Linked DNA regions of Homo sapiens: regions 2 and 3 are each linked to region 1. Evidence: fine-mapped expression QTL. A gene starts in region 1. Each other region holds a variant in brackets. All regions are shown on one strand. Distances are from middle to middle. Region 1 holds the start of ADAM28 (ADAM metallopeptidase domain 28). Region 2 overlaps ADAM28 (ADAM metallopeptidase domain 28). Region 3 overlaps ADAM28 (ADAM metallopeptidase domain 28).

Region 1 (8,323 bases):
AGAGAATTGAAAAGAGCCGAAGAACAAGTGCCAATTTAAAATTCCACATGGATCAGCATGCAGACTGTCATCATTCACCATTTCCAGGGCACTCCCCTCCTCAAGAAGCAAGCAGGAAGGTTATACTTCTCATTCGATCCCATCAGTGGTGACCATTCACCACAGCGTCAAAGTCAAGCACAAATACTTAGCAGGATATCTTCCCATTCTCTCAGGCATTCTTTGCTCCAACAATTCCAAACACTACCAGCCATAAACTAATGTGCTATAATATATTGTCCTTATTTATTCTCATAATTCTTTTTTTCCAACTTTTATTTTAGATTCAAGGAGGTACATATCCATCTGTTACATGGATATATTCCGTGATGCTGAGGTTTAGGGTACAAATAATCCTGCCACCCGGGTACTCAGCATAGTATCCAATAGCTAGGTTTTCAGCCTTTTCCCCTCTTCCCTCCCTTCTCCAGCAGTACCCAGTGTCTATTGTTGTCATCTTTATGTCCATGGGTACACAGCGTTTAGCTCCCATGTATAATTGAGAACATGCAGTATTTATAGATTTTGGATATTAGACTTTTGTCAGCTGTGCAGTTTGCTTATATTTTCGCCCGTTATGTAGGTTGTTGGTTTGCTCTGCTGATAGTTTCTTTTTGCTGTACAGAAGCTCTTTAATTTAATTAGGTCCCACTTGTCCATTTTTGTTTTCATTGCAATTGCTTTTGAGGACTTAAGTCATAAATTGTTTCCAGGGCCAATGTCCAGAATGTCATTTCCTAGGTTTTCCATAGTTTGAGGTCTGACATTTAAATCTTTAATCCATCTTGAGTTAATTTTTGTATATGGTGTAAGGTACCGGTTTTCTGTTTCTGCATTAATTCACTTAGGTTAATGGCCTCTAGGTGATCCATGTGCTGCAAAGAACACAATTTAATTCTTTTTTATAGCTGCATAGTATTCCAAGGTATATATGTACCACATTGTATTTATCCATTCCACCACTGATGGGCACCTAGCTTGATTCCATGTCATTGCTCTTGTGGATAGTACTGTGATGAACATAAGCATGTGTCTTCTCGGTAGAATAATTTATTTTCTTTTGGCTATATATCCAGTAAACGGATTGTTCGGTCAAATGACAGTTCTGTTTTAATTTCTTTGAGAAATCTCCAAACTGCTTTCCAGAGTGGCTGAACTAATTTACATTCCTACCAACATTGTGTGTTTCCTTTTCTCTGTGGCCTCACCAGCATTTGTTATTTTTTGACTTTTTAGTAATAGCCATTTTGGCTGGTGTGAGTTGGTACCTCATTGTTTTGATTTGCATTTCTCTGATAATTAGTTATGTTGGGCAATTTTTTCACATGTTTTTTTAACTGCTTGTATTTCTTCTTTTGAGAAGTGTCTGTTCATTTCTTTTGACCCTTTTTTTTTTTTTTTTTCTTTTTTTTTGAGACGGAGTCTTGCTCTGTCACCCAGGCTGGAGTGCAGTGGCGCAGTCTTGGTTCACTGCAACCTCCTCCTCCGGGTTCAAGTGATTCTCCTGCCTCAGCCTCCCAAGTAGCTGGGACTACAGGTGCCTACCACACGTGGCTAATTTTTGTATTTTTAATAGAGATGGGGTTTCACTATGTTGGCTAGACTAGTCTCGAACTCTTGACTTCAGGTGATCTGCCCACCTTGGCCTCCCAGAGTGCTAGGATTACAGGCATGAGCCACTGCACCCACCCTTTTGCCCATTTTTAAATGAGGTTACTTATCTCATGCTTGTTCAATTGTTTAAGTTCTTTATAGATTCTGGATATTAGACTTTTGTCAGCTGTGTAGTTTGCTCATATTTTCACCCGTTATGTAGGTTGTTGGTTTGCTCTGCTGATAGTTTCTTTTTGCTCTACAGAAGCTCTTTAATTTAATTAGGTCCCACTCATCCATTTTTGTTTTCATTGCAATTGCTTTTGAGGACTTAAGTTATAAATTGTTTCCTAGGGCCAATGTCCAGAATGTCATTTTCTAGGTTTTCCATAATTTGAGGTCTTACATTTAAATCTTTAATCCATCTTGAGTTAATTTTTGTATATGGTGTAAGGTAGGGGTCCAGTTTTATTCTTCTGCATATGGCTAGCCAGCTATCCCAGCACCATTTATGAAATAGGGAGTCCTTTTCCCAGGACTCCTGCCACCAGGATGCACTCCCTGCCCTGTTTGGTGTAGACCTCTGACTTCTATTGATAAATCTATTGTAACACTAAACACCTTGTGATATTGTGATCATTTATAGGTGGTACTCACTCTGTGCAATTTTATGGTAATTGAACTTATCTTTGTCAGATTGTGAACATCTCAATGAAAGTGATTGTGTTTTTTGTTTGTTTGTTTGTTTGAGACACTGTCTCGCTCTGTTGCCCAGGCTGGAGTGTGTTGTTGCAATCTCAGCTCGCTGCAGCCTCTGCCTCCTGGGTTCAAGCAATCAAGCAGTTCTCCTACCTCAGCCTCCTGAGTAACTGGGATTACAGGTGACCACCACCACACCCAGCTAATTTTTTTTTTTTAGTAGAGATGGGGTTTCACCATGTTGGGCAGGCTGGTCTCAAATTCTGATCTCAGGTAGTCTGTCTGCCTCAGCCTCCCAAAGTGCTGGGATTACAGACATGAGCCACCACTCCCGGCCATGATTGTGTTTTTTCAACTGCAATCTCAGTGTCTGACACATAATAGCTGTAAGTAAAATTACGTTGAATTAATGGAGAAAAAATATGTAATAATTAAAAGTTGAAGTATCCTTTCTGTTCCCTGGAAAAGACAAAGCAATGGAACTTGGGTTGAAAAGGCAAGAAATCTGTGAATCGCAATCCTGATGGTTAAAATGCTCAGTAACTAGACTCAAAAATTCCTTTGTGGTTTTAGTTGATGACTGTATAATCATTTGGAGACATCAATAATCACTGTAATCCCTCTAGTATGAGAATGTGTTTCAGAATCTGTAAAATGATGCATGATTTTAGTGGACTAGGACTAGGTTTTGTGGTAATAACTGGTCCTCAGCGTAATTTCTATTCCTTAGGAATTTCATAATTATTTCTATTCTCCCAGAATCTTTTCAATAGAAATGATACTGGGAGTACAAGTCAGCTAAGCCAAGGGAAAGCATTAGAGTATATGACTAAGAGCCCAGACAACACATAGTTCAGATTCCACTTCTACCACTTACTGGATAGGTGACTTTATCTGCTTAATCTTCTTAATCTATACAATGAGGGGACAACTGATTCTTAATCTTTTGAATTTTGCCTTTAAAACCCCAAATTTTCACCTGCAAAATGATTGTAAATGCATAATACATGAGTATCATAAAGACTAATAAAATAACAAGTACAGTAGATTTAGGAGAGTACCTGTATTAGTCCATTTTCATACTATCACGAAGAAATATCTGAGACTGGGTAAATTAAAAAGAGGTTTCATGGCCTCACAGTTTCACATGGCTGGGGAGGCCTCACTCTCATGGTAGAAGGTGAAGGAGGAGCAAAGACACATCTTACATGGAGGCAGGCAAAGAGAGCCTGAGCAGGGGAACTGCCCTTTATAAAATCATTAGATCTTATGAGACTTATTCACTATAATGAGAACAGCATGGGAAAAGCCCGCCCCTTGATTCAATTATCTCCCACTGGGTCCCTCCCACAACACATGGGGATTATGGGAGCTACAATTCAAGATGAGATTCAGGTAGGGACACAACCAAACCCTATCAGTACCTAAAACTTAATAAGCAGCTCAGTTGATATTAGTTATTTTATTGGTTATAAGTATGATTTTTAGACATGCCCAGTTTAGCCTTACTACCACCAGTGACAGATCCTAAAATTGTATCCTTTGGGTCTTGAATCCTTCTTCCACACTCCTCATTGCCAGTTATGACACAAATACCCCCAAGGATCTAAAAATTATTGTGCTTATATTGTCAGACATTCTTATTTCAGGATAGTTCAAACTTCCTGAGAGTACACTTGTGTGAGGAATAGAACATAAAATAATGGAAAAGAGAATGCTATATAGTAATTAGGTTGAATTAGAAATTGCTTTACATAACCACATTATGTATGTGGGGGAAAAATAACATTCTTAATAACTTTTTTCCTACAACTGTATATATATAAAAATATATTTAAACATATATTTATATATCATATCCGTAATGTAAATAAATGTCTAGCATGTTTTTCAAGACTCATTAATGCAGTTGCCTCTTTCCTTGTAGCTTATCTGGCTATAGTAATATGTTGGAAATGTACTACTTTGGAGTGGGGAGTATGGCAAAGGAGAGCAAAACAATAGTTCAGATCAAGTAATCTTAGAGCCAGGAGGCAGCCAGGACTTCCGCCTGCTGGGCCATTGTTGCAGGACCACAGCTTCGAGGTTGCGCAACACCTTTAGTAAACACTTCCTGAATCAGAGACAAGAATGAACCAGGGAGTTTCATTCTGTCTCACTGGAGAGGAGGCAGGGACAGACCCAGCAGCACCCACCTGAGCGAGAAGAGCAGACACCGTGCTCCTGGAATCACCCAGCATGTTGCAAGGTCTCCTGCCAGTCAGTCTCCTCCTCTCTGTTGCAGGTACATATTTAGCTCTTTTTCAGGTTCTATTGAATGCATTAGCGAACTTTTCATAGTCTCCTAATAGTTTTATTGTATAAACTATTTTGACTTTTTTCTTTTTCTTTTTTCTCAATCAATCTTACTAACCAGTTGGGCTGGTTTTAACCTGTTGTTTGGGGGCTGCGAGTGATACAAAGACAATGTTAAAAAGAGGCAACAAGAGGTCTTGAACCAATATGTATGCATCTCATCTGAGAATATACAGAAATAAAAGGGACAATTTCATACAGCACAATTTAAATCATGAATATGATTTTTGACTGAAAAAGTGGAATTCATCAAAACCCAGCTTGTCATTTAAAGAATGGTAAAGATGTGGCAGATTTATTTATTTATTACTGTGTACAAGGCTTAGGAAAATACCTACTATTATTATGGGAGCCAGTTTGGCTCTTTCTGTTTGAGTGTATATTTTTGTATTTACTCATTATTAGTAATAATACGTGTGACTAACTGGAAATAATTAATATTTTTTATTTATAAGGTACTGTGATATTACTTAACAAAATATCTCTGTTAAGCTTAAATTGATAATTTACTTCTATTTTGCTGATTATACCAAACATTTAAAAATTTGAAAGGAGAAAAATACTACTTCCTAACAGGAAATTATGTCTAGCAAGTCTCTCAATTTCTGGTAAATTCTCTAATTAGACTTTGGTTAAATTAGATTGGGTATTGTGATTCTTCAGCTTCTATTTCCAGAGCTTATTTAACTCAGCACATGAACTGCAGTGCCTCGAATTCCTCCCAGTAAACCTGTTCTTGGGTCTTAGAATGTTTGCTGGGACCTGGGGATGGGAACAGATTATCAACTAGAGGTATGGGCTTAGGGAGGGAAAAGTTTTCCTTGTCCATGCACCCTCTTAGTACTTTGTTGCTAAAAATGATTTTCCTGTGTCTCACCTGTTTCTGATTTGTTTTCAAGACTTATAAAAATTTCACTTAACCTAATATCTTTAAATATCGAATTATTTTCCTTTTGTTTCTGTGTATTTTTGCTTTATATAATATGTACCTATATCTGAACTGAACCTTTTCCCACTGTGCTGTGATCCTCTTCATCTCTAATGCCTTTTGCTTTGATACCTATTTTGTCTGATGTGAACGTGTTACACCAGCTTTCTTTTGGTAAAATAAGCCTGAAATATTAAAAATATATATAAAACTCATGCCAGGCATTTAACATTGACCTGAAATTCCTACTTTTTGAGGCAGACTTAATAGAAATGTTTTTTTCTCTCCGTTCTCCAAAAATGCTATCACCAAGAGCTTTTCCAGAACCCCCTCTAAGCTGAAATACAAGAACTGCTTGGGCACTAGCTTAGTTGAAGAGCGTAAAGATCAAGCTGGATCCATTAACAGAGTCACATGGCTAACACTGGGGCCCATGCACATTACAGTCCTTTTGTGCAACTGGGCACACTAATCAGTTCTGCTGCCCCGACGGTGCATGTATAACATGGCACCAAGAGATGCAACTTCCTCTGATGTCAACTCTAAAAGTGTGATGTCACCCCTCCTTTAACTTCTAGCTTCTATTTTTAAGGGTGTCTTTTTGCCACTGAACTATCCCTGTTATGATTCCCATTTGGGTTGCCTTTCTAGTCAGAATATAAGAAGTAAAGCAATTTTCATTTCCCAGTTCTTCCTGTTTGTTCTCTGCCCCCATCATCAAAGCAATACATATGTGCCCCTCTGACCATGACTTCTGCCCAGTCCCCAGATGGTTGAAATAAAAGAAAGAGATGTAAAATAAGGCTGGTTGTGTGCAGTGAACTTCACAATCCCGAGAAAAAATTGACTTATGGGATTTCATCCTAGGAAAAGGAAAAACAAATATTTAAAAGGATGTGACAGGTGTTTGCGGGGTGAAGATGTAAATGATTGCATCAACAAAGGAGAAAGGTGCTTACCTTATTACAGCAGAATACTCAGGGGGTACAGCACTTTTTGAAATTATTTTATTTCAAACTACCAGTTCTTCCTTGCCTTTATAAGGTAACTGGAAGACTGAAAAGAAAATATACAGTTTAATCTAAATAGTCAAAATAACAGACCTAATAGAAATGCAGTTTTTTCCCTTTTGTTTGTACTCACTTTTAATGCATGAAGTTTAAAACCACAAGATGGTTTGAGGAGATGCAGAGAATCCCAGGACATAAGTCAATATCCTTGTGTAAACCCTAATTCAGCGTTTAATATGATGTGTTCAGTTTGGAAAGAAGACATTTCTTTGAACAGTTTCAAACACATTTGAACGAAAATGAAAATGTCAATATTACATACTCATGTTCCCATTTCCAAAATGACCCCAAACACATGAACAAATAATGTAGCAATCCAGACTAATGTCTCTCATATTAACGTTGTTAATGAGCTTTGGCTTTTCTAAGACTCAAAACAGTCAAAAATAATTATCCCATCTAAACCAAAATAACAGTTTTCTTTTTCCTGATCTGGTTTTGCTAGTCAAGACTAATCCAGTGTGTGAGTTCTGTGGGAGAGAGAAGGCAAGTATTAAAATGAATTAGTAAAAACATATTGTGTTACACCTTGGATTTGTGTAATCCCTGGATGGCAGTTAGTTGTGTTTGTTCCTCAGGCTTCAAAAATAATTAACGTGATGTTATTCAGTGGGGAAGACGCTGCACCATTTCCATTAAACTTAAGGATGGATGAGCTAAACAATATTTAGGTCTGTTACATCCCTACAATGGCTGTGTAATTTGTTGTATTCCAGATCCCATTATTTCAGGGACTTCTAGGTTTCCAGAAAATAAGAGCCTTTAAGAGAAATTCCATTTAGTTTCTTTAGAGAATATATGGAGTGACAGGAGTTTGGAAGGAGCTGGAATTCCATTCACTTCAAACTGAAGAGATTGAGAGGTTGCCAATGATTTCTAAAAGAAATGTTGTGGGTTTTTTTTTGTTGTTGTTGTTGTTTGTTTTATTTTGCTTTGTTTTTGGTTTCCATTTGGAAGTGTTCGGCCACCAAAAAGTTGGAAATAAATTACATAACTTACATATTTTAAGCCCATATTTAAGAGCCAGTTTGCAATTTCTAATTTCATGAAACATTGGGATTCAGATACTAACTAGAAGCATAGAGGTCAGGGTGCATGTGAGAGAAAATTTGTGTTGGCTAGATGAGCCTGTTTTCCTTCTTACCATTTCTGAATGGTGCTGAGAAGGAAACTCACTTCATTTTCTGCTTTTATACAAAAAATCGGGAACGTAGCTATTATTTTATTCCACGAAGGCAGCTTGGACTACTATTTCCTGTTAGAATCATGTGTGTTCTAATATAGCATTTAAAAAGATTTATGTTGGCTGCAACATTGGTGAAATTTGGCTTCTTGAACTCTCTATCTTAACAAGACTAATTGCATTGATTAGCTACTGTAATGTACCAGGCAGCACGTGGGTGCCTTATGGTATGCTTGTTTTGTGTCCCTGAATTAAGGAGGCAGCAGGGAATTGTGTCAATATCATCAGTTAATTTCTGGCAGGAGTAATTTTCTTACCTCTTGGCATCTTAGTGTTTCAAAATAATTACAATAATTAGAAAAATTTTAACTCAGAAAAAGAATCATCAATTTTTCTTTAGGTTTTTGAACTTATGTTTCAAAAATTTTTTATAATTGATGTTATTCTTTTCCTTTA
Region 2 (8,323 bases), 56 kb after region 1:
TTCTGGTTTCTGATTTAGAAATGTAAATTATTTATGCAAAATATCTCCACTGTGTGATCTCCATATTATATTCCATATTGGGTCATTTTTCTTGTTAATTCTGGGGAAGTTTTTCAAGATTATTCTCTGTATCATAATATACATTTTTTAGCAATGTTAATTCTCTTATTACTTATAATGACATTTAAAATTATTCAGTGGCATTTTTATGTGTCTTTGAAATATTTTTTTATCCCAGTTGGTTGTTTTCTCCTGTTTCACATCTGTCTAGCTTTTTTACAGTCTATATTTTAATTGCATTGAGAGTACCCTAAATTTGATTCTTTATACTCCTTTTCTGAGAGTATACATTTTATGTATACTTCTACTTCTATGTGTTATTTTATACCTAATCTTTTGATTCAACCGATGCTTTTTCTTTAGTTATCATCCAATAAGGTTGAATTAATTCTGATAAGCACTGTTAAAAGTATTTCTCAAAATTTTTAACTTGGAGGACTAGCGATACAACTTTACGGTATATTACATGAAATTTGTATTTTAGCAGGATAAGGAGGTAGCTGGAGAAGTTCAAAATACATACAGTGGAAGCTTTTCTCAACTTATTCTGTTTGTTGAAACCACTACATCAGAATTCAACTTTATCCCCCAAGCCTTGTTTTTTTTAGGGCATTGTGTTAGTGGGTTCAGTGCCCTTTCAGTGCTATTTCTTATCTAACCATCAAGGAAAGCCTCAGACAGACTGAGGAACATTTCCTAGTTCAGAAGTGTCCTTGCACCAAGAGGACAGACCCTAGAGGATGACAATTTTTACTATAGCTATGGTCCTAAATCTAAACTTGAATGGGAAAAAATTACATTTTTATTTTCATTAAATTCTAAAGTTAGTTTAGAATTTTCTACAATTATGGGAATGTATGGCTTATAAACCATAATAGTATTAGCAATATTCCATGACTTTGTCACCAATAGAAATTACAAAGACTTTAATATCTCATTGCAGTTGTTGAATGTATCTCCAAATACCCCATGAGTATCATTTGTTTGAAATTTTGGTAATTACTGACCTACTGTTAGAACTGATTATTTCAGAGGTTAATAAACACATATTTTACTATATCATAAATTGTTTTATAATATTTTCACAACTGTATCCCAACATCAATAGCTTCCTTTAAATCTTATGCCTTTTATGAATGAATTTAGAAACACTCAGAAAAGGGGTTTATAGGCTTTATCAGATTGCCAAAATGATTTGCAGCATGACAAAGTTTAAGAGCACTGCCCTACGACATGGCCATACACAGCCATTGGCTTTCAAGATTATTGTTAACACCATCTTTTTGTGTGTAACATAATAGAGCAGACATGTAAATATAAAGGCAAACCTGATGATTACAAAATGAACGCTCATGTAATATAATAAGGGCCAAGAAATAGACCCAGACATCTGCTTTCCTGCCTCTTTTCAGTCTGATCTCCCCTCTTTCTCTAAGGGTTGACCATTAATCTTTCTTTTGTCATAATCATTTTGTTAGTTTTCTTTGTAGTTTTGCTTCCTAAATACACATCCTTAAACAGCAGCTTTTGGTTATATAATTCCATGTGTATAAAGTTTTTAAACACAGGAAACACAGCTTCCCTCACTATCAACACTGTCACCAGAGACATACATTTGTTACATCCATGAACATACCCGGACACATCATTATCACCAAGAGTCTTTAAAGTTTGTATGTATGAAATTTTTCTATGCTCATTTTCTTCTTTTTCTCTACCTTATGCTTTCAAGATCATCCATTCTAGTGATTGGATTAAGGTCCACTAGTTCTCTTTCAAGTTTCTAAGAATTCTGTCAAATACTTCCTTATTTATTAAAATGTTTTCCCCTTTACTCTATTAGTACTGTCAAATAAGTCAATTGGTTTGTGAACATTTATCTAACTTTGCAACCTTTGAATAAACCTAAGTTAGAAATAATATCTTTTTTATATAGTGAAGGATGTTTACTCTTATTTTATACTCTTGGGTGATATTGGACTGTGATTTTTTCATATTGAAAAAATTGCTGAATTTTGGTATCAAGGTTATGCTAGTCGCATAAAGTGTATTGGAGAGTATTCATTTATATTCTCCGGAAGAATTTGTATTTTTTGGCTATTTTATATTCATGGGTGATATTGGACTGTGATTTTTTCATATACGTGTTCTGTAGTATTCTCCAGATATTTTGTTTATCAAGTTTATTAATTGTCTGATATATAAATTAAGCCTAACATTGTTTATTTGTTCTACCAATTACTGTGCTGGGAGTGTTAAAATACCCCCCACTGTAATTGTGAATTTGATTACTACTTCTGGCTCTATCAATACTTTTATACTTTGAGAGCGTATTATTATATACATACAAGTTTAGAGTGTTGCTTCTTCCAAATTAATGAACAGTGTATCATGATGAAATGGTGCTGTGTCTATCTAGTACACTTCTTACCTTTGAGAATATACACTTCCTGGAGACCATATAGCTGTAACGTATTTGTTTTGGTCTGTATTTGCCCTGAAATAACATTTTTCCATATTTTCATTTTTATCCTTTCTGAATCACGTTTTAAGTCTTTTTTTCTTTTATTAAAGAAAGCATGCACATATAGTTTTTAGTAGTACTCACATCTTTGGTTTTTGTTTGTTTCTTTAACTGAGGAACTTAGTCCGTTTAAATTAAATGTAATTACTGATGTACTTGGGTATAAATCCACAATTATATAGTTTCTATTTGTCTTTCCTGTTTATGTTCCCTTTTCTCTCCTTTCTTACTTTCTTATAGACTTATTGATTTTATTATTTTATTAACTTGGATGTTATGCATTTCTTTTATATTTTAATGATTACCCTAAAACTTCCCAATTCATTTGCTTTTTTAAAAAAATAAACTTAACTTACTTTCTTTTGTAGAGCAGTTTTGGGTTCACAGCGAAATTGAAGAGAAAGAACAGACAGTTGACATATACCCAGCAACTCCCACTCCTGAACAGCTTCCCTCACCATCAACATCCCCCATTCTCGTGGAGTATTCGTTGATGGTAACAAATACTCCATAAACCTACATTAACACATCATTATCACCCCAAGCCCACAGTTTACATTAGGGTTTGCTGTTGGTTCATTTGCCTTTCATTTCTTTCTGCATTTCTGAACTTTTATCTAGGATTATTTTCTGTCTCTCCAGGTCCTTGCCCACTCACTAATCTCTACAAAGTAATTTTATCTAACATTTAAGTACTTTTATACTTTTAGGATGCTTTTGTTTGCTTGTTTGCAAAAAATTTAAAGATTAAAAGATTATTTTTAATGGGCAGGTTGATCTCAATTTCCTAGTCCACCATTACCAGAAACAAGAAGAGGCTGCACTTACTCTTCAGTGATTTCTATCTTCACCTGCAAACCTTCCGTTGTTATACTTCCATCTGTCCTGTGCCCCAATTTTAGCTCCAGACCATGTCTTTTCAAGTTTGGTGTGTTTGTGAAGTACTGCCAAATTCCCATTTATTTCTCTGATAATATGTCATTCTTCTGAAAATAGTTACAGTTCTGATATTAGTGCAAGTAAGTGTATGTTTTTCATTCTGAATGTATCTACACTATAACAGAATGCTTCACTGTTTTATTTTCCTTTGACTTTTTGGATTGGAATCTTATGGAGGGTGGCGAGTAGCGAATATTTGAACTAAAGTCATTGTCTTACCTAGAATTCTGCTTCTGATGTGTCTACCTCTATCTGCATGTGTGTGTGTGCTCACACTTGTGAACTTTTCTTGCATTTATACAAATATTAATCATGCTATTGGTTTGCTGATTTCTGTAATAAGAGAACGGTAACTTTTGGCATTGCTTTTCAATCTTTTCCTTCCTGGTCTCTTGTGGTTTCAGATTATTGTAAGAGAAATGAACAGTTAAGAGCAAAAGAGTGAAGTTATATTCATTATTTAAATTTGTCAGTACAAGAAAAAACACCATGGAGGCCCAGGAATATTTGTTCAAACCATTTCCTCATTCTCAAGGTCACATAACTTCCTGTCTAATTCCAGTGTAGACCAACATCAGTGGAACACTCGATTATTTGTCTTCTTAGTCACACCTCAGCTTCTTATTCACTAATGACAGGAATGTATTTTCAAAGTTTTAGTTTCTTTTTCTCTGTTTTATTCCAAGACTGCTTTTCAAAAATGTTTCATTTCTTCTTTGCCATCTTCCTTACTGTATATTCTCTTCTAATCTCCCAGCTCATTTCCCAGTTGTTACAAACATTATCTAAGTATTCTCAATATTATGATTTTTAACTTATTTCATGTTAAATGTTTCCTATAGATTTCATGTGTATTTATTCTACCTAATATTAATATAATTATCCTGATCAAAATACTTTTTCATTTTACTGGCTATGGGAATTTATGTTCATTGGAGAAAAGGGTAGCTGGAATATGTGCTAAGTAAAGAAACAAGGACTAGTGTGTTGTGCAGATGTGTGTTTCTGCAGTCCTCAGCGGGCCCCTGTTCTCTGCTGCAGACTTCTCCATTGTGGTTGGGGT[G/C]CTGTTCCCAATGGCGGTCATTTTTGTGGTGGTTGCTATGGTAATCCGGCACCAGAGCTCCAGAGAAAAGCAGAAGAAAGATCAGAGGTGATCCTTTATCTTATCTTGCTGTAGGGACTCTTTGACCCCTATTTTACTTTACTTTAAATTCAATGTATAACCTATCCTTTCAAATTGAATTGGTTTACTTCTAATATTCAGAAATACATGCAGATGGTCTTTTTGGACGAGAAACTGGGTTTCCCTTTAACTGAGAAATCCTTCACATCTAGAAATGTTTTTTGTTTTTCCTTCTGTTAGTCACCGTAGTTATAATAATAAGAGTGATATTAACTCTCATTATGACAGATTTTTTGAATTTGTTGTAAGAATATAATATCTAACATTATTTGATCAATATACGATGAGCACTGTGCTAAGCACCGCCCCACCCACTTTTTTTTGAGACAAGAGTCTCCCTCTGTGGCCCAGGCTGGAGTGCGATGCTGCGATCTCGGCTCACTGCAACCTCCACACCTCCCAGTTTCAAGTACTTCTCCTACCTCAGCCCCGAGTATCTGGGATTACATGCACATACCACCACACCGGGTTATTTTTGTATTTTTAGTAGAGATGGGGTTTCACCATGTTGGCCAACCTGGTCTCAAACTCCTGACCTCAAATGATCCACCCACTTTGGCTTCCCTAAGTGCCGGGATTACAGGTGTGAGTCTCCACACCCGGCCGTGTGCTAAGCCCTTTTATATCTATTATCTTATTTACACTTCACAAGAACTTCATAAAGTGGTCATGAGTTTCATTTTACAGATGAGAAATGTTTTATGCTAACCCTTACACAATTTTGCAAGGTTAGGAACTTCACATTTTGATGGATATAGAAACAAGCTCAGAGAGATTATTAGCAAACATGCTTTCAGTCTTGCAGAGTAAGTGGTGGAGGCTGGGTTTGTCTCACGAACGTGATTCTGGCACAACGGTGTTTTTTTTTTTTTTTTTTTTTTTTTTAGCACTTTTAAAGAAAGACTTATTTACTCATGATGAGTTTTTTAATATTGAGTAAGACATTAATAAAACAACATAATTTAGATAAAATTTGGATTCAACACTATCATTTTTAGAAGTCAGGGGTTTTTGGAGAAAAAAGAAAACTAGTAGTGATTATGAATTACAAGGCAATGAAAGAGGCTGACGGGGAAGTAAAAACTGACCCAGGGAGCAGATAAAAACCCAGGCAATAGGCAAGAAAGACACAATGGGAAAAAGAAGTTGGGAATCTTCTACGGAGTTTCCCTGTCATGCTGAAGGAGCTGCTAAGTCAATTGATATCATGTGTTTCTCTCTTACAGGCCACTATCTACCACTGGCACCAGGCCACACAAACAGAAGAGGAAACCCCAGATGGTAAAGGCTGTTCAACCCCAAGAGGTGAACTATATAGTCTGGGCTGTGATTACCATGGCCCCACTTTGCGTTTCTCTCACACTCTTATCCTGACTACCTATCTATCATTTCTACCCAGCAGCGTTTTGCAGTAACACATTCAGAAATGTCTCCTTTGCCTTTTGTTAAAGGCAAAAGAGTCCCTAAAATGCCGAGGCTACTTTGCCGGGGTTCATGAAATGCAAACAGAATAAAGAGAACAAAGAATGCACATACCGGATGTCTGTCTGTCTCTCTCTTTGTCTCTGCTTCATTCTCTCTCCCTCTCTCACACACACACACTCCCTCTAGCTTATTTCTTTGCAAATTGACAAAATAGATACAAAAATATGTATGTCTGTATGATAATACATGTAATATTTATAACCCAAATGTCCTACTCATGTCCTGTAAATTTAAAGATTTTAGCTGAAGTTGGTTAATAACATTGGTAATCATTTATAACATTGGTAATCATTTTTTGATGAAAACTTTTCATTACAGCTCTGGGAAATACTTCTATGGAATACGCCAGCAGGACCACTGTGATTTTCTATCTGGTCTCTTGGTGTCAGCTTAGTTCCAAGCTTCCATGCCTTGAAAAGTGCTTACTTAAAAATTACTTAAAAACTGTGCTTATGAAACTAATGGTTCATTTTGAAATATTCGTTCTTCTTTTCAGATGAGTCAGATGAAGCCCCATGTGTATGATCTGCCAGTAGAAGGCAATGAGCCCCCAGCCTCTTTTGTGAGTTAGCAACTTCTCTTAAATACCACCCTAGTTCAATCTCCAGGAAATATCGGTGAAAGTCATAGCCCACAACACTTCATTATTTCTTCAGGACAATATTGAAATCTATGTGAATATTAATATAAAATACAAATTCTTCTGCAAAATATTTTGAAAATATAAAAAAATGAACATGTATGTCACTCCATGCCAACTTGTGACAAGAAGAGGACTAATCTGCTTAATAGAGTACCACTGTTTTCATCAGCTCAGGCTGCTGTAACTAAATTAACATAGATTGAGTGGCTTAAACAACAGATATTTACTTCTCACATTCTGGAGACTGGGAAGTCCAAGTTCAAGGAGCTGGCAGATCCAGTGTCTGGTGAAGCGGCCTTCTGGCTTGTAGACAGCTGCCTTTTTATTGTATCCTCACATAGCAGAGGGAGAGCATCTCTCTTGTGCTTCTTCTTATAATGGCATTAATCCTATCATGAGAGCTGCACCCTCACGACCTCATTATTTCCAAAAGGCCCCACCTCCAAATACCATCATTCTGGGGATTAGGGTTTCAACATATGAAATTGTGGGGTGACACAAACATACAGTTTATAGCAATCATCTTTATCAGATACCTATTGACATTGGACTTAGGTCTCAACTGTGTATGTACAACTAAATGAAAGCAATCAAACTCATATTTTACAATATTCTCATGGGTGGGGTCATGGCTTCTCCATTTCTGAAAATGATTTAAGTCTTTTCTTTATGCACGCCTATTTTCAGGACCCTATCTTTGAATGTAAATGTTTTATCCTTTTACTAGCTAATTACAAAGCCAGATTTTCCACCACCGCCAATTCCTGCACCTATATCATCTTCTTTGCTTGTAAGTATCAGATAGTCATTGGTGAATTTTTAATCTCTCACCTGCTCATTGCAAATACTGTCTCCACATCCATCGGTTATCAGGATGTGTACTTTTGAGGTTAACTTGAAATATCACAGCACATTTGTCCCAGGGATATCTAAAACTTCCTGTCTATAAATTAGTATGGATATTGATGTTTTATTATAAAAAATAGTATTGCTGTTATGCAATTATTGAGAAACGATAAATAGCTCTGCTCTGTGAGGTCTCAAAGATTCATTTCTAGATGTTTATTTAAGGAGATAAAATTTTATTAGGTGATATTTTACTTTATGTATATTAGTCATAGTTTTCTGTAGGAGGTAGGGTATGAAAAATGGGCCATATATAAGCAAACCTGGAATAAGAGTCAGGTGCTCATGAAGTAAGAATTACAGTACATTCACTCATTAAATGGCTCCTGAGCATTTTTCTTGTGCCTGGTATTCTGCTGTGGGTAAATGAGAAAGACCTACATTTGAGATTTTTTTCTTTCAAGAAATTTCACATTTTTAGTGAGAAAAAACAAGTCATATAAAAATGGAGCACTTAATTCTTCAACTGTTATTTGTAGTATCGCCCAAGACGAGTGACACTGACAGGAAAAATATGGTGAGGAGAAAGTCAACGGGCTTGGAGTGGTTAAAGTAGGACGAATATTCATTGGTTGAGTAGTTG
Region 3 (8,323 bases), 66 kb after region 1:
GTAAAGTAGCTGTTTCCATAATCAGGGAACATGCTTTAGTTCATCATCACAGCTACAGTTTTTCTTGTATTTGTCTGCTTCACCCATTTCTATCAATCACTTACCTGGTCCCCACAGGCCTGTCGCTTCATGAGGAACTTTATGGTTCATTTACCCTTGCAGTATGAGGTTCTAGATAAGCCCACTCTGGCCTCAAAAGTGAAGCTCAGTCCTCAGGAAATCCAGAGTCCACTGATCAAATCACTGTCAAGGATACAGGCTTTTTCTCCATGTGGCATTTGCAGAAGAACAACTTTAAAAGTAGAGCTTTATCTGCCCTGTGAGGTTTCAGAAGACCCTCCCCTGACCCAGAAATAAATCCCTATTTCCTGGAAAGCCATTATGTACTCGTGACCAACTTGTGAACTTTTCTGTGTTGTTGTTGTTGTTTTTTAAATATCTGTCCCCAGTAATAGATTCACCTAATCCTTTTTTATACTGATGGAATGGAAATCTTAAATCTATGAATCCTCAACTAGCCATGTACCATAACCCAAGCAAAAACTAAACCATACACTCTCAAAAGCAGTGGCATGTGAACATGCCTGCAAGTTCCTAAATGATGTCACTAGGTCCCTGATGCAGATGCATCATACGTCCTATTTGAAGAGAAGAAATGCAGTACAATGACAGGAAAACCATTATTTTATCATAGAACTGCGAACCCAAGTCCTACAATGTTTCCCTTTCAGCTCAACTGCAGAATAGTTTAGAACAGACTTTTTGATTTCACAATACTGTTTCCACACTTACTTATATCCGTAACTTTCTAACTTTAAGGGAATTCCGCTTATTTGACATTTAACTACCTCAGATATGCCACCAAACCTGTTTTCATCATTAGTTATTTTTACCTTGTCTACTTTAAAACAGTGAAATTATTAGGTTAAATTATGTTTTTATCCAGTTACTCTAAGATACCTTAGTGTTTGTCTACTTATTACAACTCACCAAATTACTGGTTTTATATGGCCTTTGGGAAGGCTTTTAGCTTTTTATAAAATAATGAAGTATGCATGAAAAGAAAGCAAATTTTAGTTGGTTGCAGTCAGAGAATATGGAAAGGGTTATTATTATAATTAGGATTTTATTATTCACATTGGAAATCACTGCTATGTGTTAAGGAATTGAAGGTGGCCTCTGGCTAGCAGCCATTAAGAAAATGAGCCCCTGAGTTCAACGACCCTCAAATGAAGTGAAGTCTACCAATAACCACTGAATAAGCTTGGAATTTTAGATTCCTTCCCAGCTGAATCTTGACTTCAGCCTTGTGAGACACCCTGAAGTAGAGGATGCAGCTAAATTTTGTCCAGATTACACACCCACAGAAACTGTATGATAATTAATATGTGTTGTTTAAAGTTGTTATGGTTTGGAGATATTTGTTATGCAGCAATAGATAGCTGATACAAGGAAGTAGAGAACAAACATTTTCTATTAGTCTGTTTTCACATGGCTATAAAGAATACCACCTGAGACTGGGTAATTTATAAAGAAAGGAGGATTAATTGACTCAGATTTCCACATGGCCTAGGAGGCCTCAGGAAACTTACAATCATGATGAAAGAGGAAGCAGAAACATCTCATATGATGGAAGATGTGTATGAAGGAGGAACTGTCAAACACTTATAAAACCATCAGATCTCTTGAGAGCTTACTATCTCGACAAAAGCATGGGGGAAACCACCCCCATGATCCAATCACCTCCCACCTGGTCCCTCCCTCAACATGTGGAGATTATAGCAATTAAAAAAATGAGATTTGGGGGGATGGACACAGAGCCAAACCATATAATGTTTTAAATGCTCCAGATAGGTTTAGGTAAAATTAACTATATTTAATAGGCTTTCATCACTGCAAAACTTTTTTTCCTTTCTTTGTGTCTCTAGTCTCTTCCATTTGTTCTCCCTTCTTTACTAGCACCGAGGATTTGCTTGAAATCTCTGATAGCCAGTATTCTCATTTATCATATTCTTTCTCACTTTGTGTTTCCTTGGTAATTTTGGATAACTCCTTAAATTTATCTTCCAAATTACTGGTTTTTATATTCTGTACTGTCAGTCCTCCTGTTCACTAATTTCAAAATTTATAGTTGTTTCTCTTGTTTACTTATATAGTTGTTTCTCTTGTTTACTTAATAACATTCTCTTCTTTCCTATCAGTTTAATTTTATAAAGGCTAACCAATTAACTGTTTTTAACTTATATTTCCAGATATTTTAAAAATTAAAGCAAAATGTGTATAAACTTTATTACTGCTTCCCACAGTAAATATTTTTCAGAAGTACATGCTTTCTCAGCCACTTGACTAGTATGTTCCCCATCATTCAAAGACACCATTATTTCCTAAGTGTTATATTGCTATTTTTCAGTTGGTGCATCCAATATTATTATCAGCTTTAATATTGTTTCATCATATGTCATTGTTCAAAGAATCCATCTCTTGAGCGTAAGCTAAATAATTTGCATACACTAGCATCTGGATGTAATATGGAAAAATATGGAAATGGTTGGGGTGATAAGCAAGTCTTGCATATTCTTTTCTCCTCAATTTTTTTTCTCCAAAGTGGGCCAAGCCAAGAGTGGCACAGCTGTGTGGAGATACTGAGCTCCACCTTGTCAGGGAAGATCCCAACTCAGGAGAAAACACCTCTAACAAAATCTGTAGCCACGTTGGCACATCTGCCCTTGAATTCACTTTGTCTCTTTTGCTGCTTCCATAAAAAGGCTTTCCCTTGACAATGTTAGGCACTTTTTAGCAACTAGGCCTGGGTGGTCTGCTACAATGCCCAACACTTAATACAGTATCACTATTACTGTTAGTAGTATGCTAAGCGAATACTATTGTTATAAAAAAAATCCTAAGCATGAAAATTACGGTATACAATTTATTGTGAAGGCAACTTCTTGTGAACATTAAACGGTTTATCTCCTTCACCTCATATTAAAGTCCATACTCTTGGGATATATCTGACATCTCAATATTAAATGACTAAGATGACTAAGTCGTTTATGTTGCTCCCACCTCACACAAAGTTAAAACTATTTGTTACTTTAAATAGTTTGACAATGTTATTTTAAAATCTGGACAAATCACAAATATAAAATACTTATTTAATTTTCTTCTGTAAAAAGATGTATGCTTGGTCAGGCACAGTGGCTGATGCCTATAATCCCAGCACTTTGGGAGGCTGAGGTGGGTGGATCACGAGGGTCAGGAGTTCGAGACCAGCCTGGCCAAGTTGATGAAACCTCATCTCTACCAATAATACAAAAATTAGCCAGGCAGGATGGCGGGCACCTGTAATCCCAGCTCTCAGGAGGCTGAGGCAGGAGAATCACTTGAACCCAGGGCACAGAGGTTTCAGTGAGCCAAGATCGTACCACCGCACTCTAGCCTGGGTGACAGAGCAAGACTGACTCCACCCAAAAAAAAAAAAAAAAAGCAAAAAGAACAAAGCTGGAGGCATCACACTACCTGACTTCAAACAATACTACAAGGCTACAGTAACCAAAGCAGCATGGTACTGGTACCAAAACAGAGAGACAAACCAATGGAACAGAACAGAGGCCTCAGAAGTAACACCAGACATCTCCAACCATCTGATCTTTGACAAACCTGACAAAAACAAGCAATGTGTAAAGGATTCCCTATTTAATAAATGGTGTTGGGAAAACTGGCTAGCCATATGCAGAAAACTGAAACTGGACCCTTTCCTTACACCTTATACAAAAATTAACTCAAGATGGATCAAAGACTCAGACGTAAGACCTAAAACCATAACTCCAGAAGTAAACCTAGGCAATACCATTCAGGACATAGGCATGGGCAAAGACTTCA[T/C]GACTAAAACACCAAAAGCAATGGCAACAGACGCCAACATTGACAAATGGGATCTAATTAAACTAAAGAGCTTCTGCACAGCAAAAGAAACTATCAGAGTGAACAGGCAACCTACAAAATGGGAGACAATTTTTGCAATCTATCCATCTGACAAAGGGCTAATATCCAGAATCTACAAAGAACTTAAATTTACAAGAAAAAAAAAATCCCCCATCAAAAAGTAGGTGAAGGATATGAACAGACACTTTTCAAAAAAAGATATTTATGCAGCCAACAAACTATGAAAAAAAGCTCATCATCACTGGTCATTTGAGAAACGCAAATTAAAACCACGATGAGATACAATCTCATGCCAGTTAGAATGGTGATCCTTAAAAAGTCAGGAAAACAACAGATGCTGGAGAGGATGTGGAGAAACAGGAACACTTTTACACTGTTGGGAGTGTAAATTAGTTCAACCATTGTGAAAGACAATATGGCAATTCATTAAGGTTCTAGAACCAGAAATACCATTTGACCAAGCAATCCCATTACTGGGTTTATACCCAAAGGATTGTAAATCATTCTACTATAAAGACATATGCACACGTATGTTTATTGTGATACTGTTCACAAAGCAAAGACTTAGAACCAACCCAAGTGCCCATGAATGATACACTAGATAAAGAAAATTTGGCACATATACACCATGAAATACCACACAGCCATAAAAAAGGATGAGTTCACGTCCTATGCAGGGACATGAAAACCATCATTGTCAGCAAACTAACAGAGGAACAGAAAACCAAACACCACATGTTCTCACTTATAAGTGGGAGTTGAACAATGAGAACACACGGACCCAGGGAGAGGAACATCACATACCGGGGCCTGTTGCGGGGTGGGGGAGTAGGGGAGGGATAGCATTATGAGAAATACCTAATGTAGATGATGGGTGGGTGGGTGCAGCCAACCACCATGGCACATGTATACCTATAGTAACAAACCTTCACATTCTGCACATGTATCCCAGAACTGAAAGTATAATTTTTAAAAAATTTAAAAAACAATATATGCTTAATATAGAAAGGTTGAGAAACAAGAGAAAGTACTAAGACAAAAATTTTTCCTAATCTCACCAAGTATGATTTCAATCAACACTTGGAAATATGACCTTTTCCTCTCTTTTCTGTCTGGTATATAAGTTAAGTATTAATTCAATATTTATGCTATTTGTATTATGGCTTTTAATTTTACTTAGTAATATGACACAAATCTATAAGAATATTATGCAGCCATCAATACTATTTTATTAATGAATAATGTTTTACTTAATATCTGATTCAACAATGAAATCTTTTTTCAAAAATGTTTATGGCTAAAATAATGCAGTGATGAACAATGGTGTATATACCATCTAAAGGCAGTTCTCTGTATCACAGTTCGGGTTCCTGGGCAAGCAGAATCTGAGATGGATTTTAGCAGCCAGGAAGTTTATTATGGAGGGCTTTCAGGTCAGGTCCCCTATTTGTTTAATGGAATGGGAGAAAGCAGGATTAGGCTGGAGGAGTTGGGAATGATGCTGCCTCAAAGAAGGCTTTAGCTGGCCCAGCCAGCCCTGAACCTGGGCTATCCTTCAGAATGAAGCCAAGTTGAGGCAAAAGGGAAAAGCTTTTACTCCCTCATGTCAACTAGTCACAGGTACAAATTGCTCTCAAAAGAGCTGTGACCTTGGGCAAGATGACTTTATTTAGTGAAAGCATTTTCCAGGTACAAATTGCTCTCAAAAGAGCTGTGACCTTGGGCAAGATGACTTTATTTAGTGAAAGCATTTTCCAAGGCAAGTTGATGGCTGTCTGCAGGTAGCACAGCCAACAATTGGGGGATAAGTTCTTCTGTGCTTAATGGCGACCTGTGCAGCCCAAAACAAGGCCTATTTTTTCTTTGAGTCTGGGTTTCATTGCATTGCTCAGACTGGTCTCCAAGTCCTAGACTCAACAATCCTCTTGACTCAGCCTTCCAAGTCACTGGGATTACACATGTGATCCACAACACCCAACGTTTATTACTTCTTATTTCCTTTGGATAGTACTCTATATGTTGGCTAGCCCCCTAAAAGTTTTCCAACTTTTTTGCTACACTTTGCAAAAATTTTTCTCTAGTAGGAATATGTATGAATTTAAATTTCCATTAGCAATTTATGAAACTGTTTCCACATAGGCATTCTCATTCTTAATACCTGCCTATCTTAACACCTTTCCTTGCTTAGAGGATTCCCACATTGCACATCTTGGAGATATAGCTCCTTTGCTATTTGCAGTGGCAACTGGAAATATTCTGCATGTTGTTACCAGATTCTTTTTATTTTTTCCTGGAGACAGGGTCTTGCTCTCCTCTCTTGCACCAGGTTGGAGTGCAGTGGCATGATCTTGGCTCACTGTGATTTCAACCTCCCAGGCTCAAGCAATCCTCCTACCTCAGCCTCCAAAGTAGCTGGAACCATAGGCATGCACCACCACACTCTAATTTTTGTATTTATTGTAGAGAAGGGGTCTTGCCATGTTGCCCAGGCTGGTCTTGAACTCCTGGGTTCAAGTGATCTGCCTGCCTTGGATTTCCAAAGTACTGGGATTCCAGGCTTGAGCTACAGTGCCTGGCCAACCCTCTTTTGCACCTATGACATAGTTATGGCCAAGGATCTACCTTTCAGATGTACCCTCCCAGAACTTTGAATCAGAAGTATGTAATATAAAGCAGAAATTACAGAGAATTATCTTTGGTGATGCACACTGTTATAATAAGGTTGAGTTCCTCAGGAAGTCTTGAGACTAGTGCCAATTGCTGGTTCAAGGCTGGTCTAGTGCAAGGAGTATCAGCAGTGTCAGCTGAGTGACTGGCAAGGGTGAGACAGACATTCTGTATTATTCAGCTCCACGATACAGGCTGGAATTCCTCATTGCATAGCTACCAAGTTTGGTTCTCCAGTCCTCATGTCGAGTCCTTCAGCTACCTAAAATCCTTTGTTTTAACTCAAATATTATGTTTTATTGTGGTAAAATATATATGACATTGAATTTACCATTTTAACCAGTCTTAAGAATACAATTTGGTGACATAAGTACATTCATTGTGCTGTGCAACCACCACCACCATCTATTTCCAGGACCCATTCGTCATTCCAAACAGAAACTCTATATCCATTAAACAATAAATCCCCGTTATGTTTTCCCCTCAATCTCTGGTAACCTCTACTCCACTTTCTGTCTCTGAATTTGCCTATTCTAGGTAGCTCCTATCAATGGAATTATACAGTATTTTTCCATCTATGTGTCTGACTTATTTCACTTTGCACCATGTCTTCAAGTTTCATCCATATTGTAGCACGTATCAGCATTTCATTTATTTTTAAGGCTAAATAACCTAATCATCTTTTAATATATTTATTTTCTATTTGAGAGGGCTGGAGATAATTTCTGTTGCTCCATGTCATCATTCAAATTAACATTGTTTTTCTCCACTTTATACATTTTAATTTACAATTTTTTTTGATGGCAAACCTATTTTAAAATGGATAATGATACATACTTTATTCCTAGTATTTTAGAACCTCATTTAAATCAGTTATTGCTATTCTCTTCTTCATGAGAACCACATCCATTGTTTCTTTCTAAGCTTAGTTGACCAAGCACAGACAATGGCTCAATGTTGAAATCTTAGCTGTGCAATCCTGATGGGAACAACAATTTAAGGAAGTTCAGAAAATTATCTAAATGAAAAATGAAATGATGATGCTATGACTAGAGATAACGGTCCCCTCCTGATGTCCCAGTAGCTTTTGAGAAAGCAGGTATCAACTGCTGGACCGCAAAAGTTGCTCCATTTCTCATAGAGAAGACTCCAATGCACAGGCCAAGTGCTATGTCTCAGCAGATAACACTGTTCCCTTGTAAATCAACATGTGTTGCCAAATTGGCCTTGATCTCTCTAACTGCTGTGGAATAGCTCTGAGATTCGTGGGTCTCTTGAGACATGTTGTAAGTATAATTGAAATGGAGCCTGCAGGAGCCAGTTCCTGGCAAAACTCTCTCAGTTCTTTTGTGCCCATGGCAGGGCTGAGTAGATCCACTGGAAAGCTGCAGTCTCAGATAGGAAATAAGGGAACGAAAATGTAGCAGAAATATAAAGACAAGAGAATAAGAGAAAAGTCAGTTTTTGGTGCAGGATGGTAAGCCACACACAGAAAACAAAGTATAGATAGTCCTCCTGGCTCTGCCAAAAACTAGCTCTTTAGCCTTATGCAAATAATTTCAATTCTTTGATTTTACCAGTCTTAAGTATACAATCTGTACATTTACTCATCTATAAAATGAAATTAAAAATGTATGACTTGCCAATATTCAAACAGGATTTTTTTGTTCTTGTTGAGACAGAATTTTATTCTTGTTGCCCAGGCTGGAGTGCAATG

The links. PIP is the estimated chance that this variant, and not a neighbour inherited with it, causes the effect.
Region 2: its variant is fine-mapped to the expression of ADAM28 in whole blood (TOPMed, PIP above 0.99).
Region 3: its variant is fine-mapped to the expression of ADAM28 in whole blood (TOPMed, PIP above 0.99).

Annotation. Positions count from the first base shown.
Region 1 is chr8:24,289,581-24,297,903 of GRCh38, forward strand. ADAM28 (ADAM metallopeptidase domain 28) reads left to right here and starts at 4,489. Exons shown (of 23, transcript NM_014265.6): 1 at 4,489-4,615. The coding sequence starts at 4,570. It overlaps ADAM7-AS1 (ADAM7, ADAMDEC1 and ADAM28 antisense RNA 1), which reads right to left. Exons shown (of 6, transcript NR_125808.1): 5 at 6,574-6,670; 6 at 6,234-6,477.
Region 2 is chr8:24,345,300-24,353,622 of GRCh38, forward strand. It overlaps ADAM28 (ADAM metallopeptidase domain 28), which reads left to right. Exons shown (of 23, transcript NM_014265.6): 19 at 4,565-4,673; 20 at 5,933-6,011; 21 at 6,688-6,753. The region is part of intron 3 of ADAM7-AS1 (ADAM7, ADAMDEC1 and ADAM28 antisense RNA 1); the gene reads right to left. Among named protein-coding and RNA genes, the nearest start is that of ADAMDEC1, 35 kb to the right of the region's middle. The variant G/C (reference allele first, on the strand shown) is at 4,587.
Region 3 is chr8:24,355,859-24,364,181 of GRCh38, forward strand. ADAM28 (ADAM metallopeptidase domain 28) reads left to right here. Exons shown (of 23, transcript NM_014265.6): 23 at 1-3,156. All of the region lies in intron 3 of ADAM7-AS1 (ADAM7, ADAMDEC1 and ADAM28 antisense RNA 1), which reads right to left. Among named protein-coding and RNA genes, the nearest start is that of ADAMDEC1, 24 kb to the right of the region's middle. The variant T/C (reference allele first, on the strand shown) is at 3,880.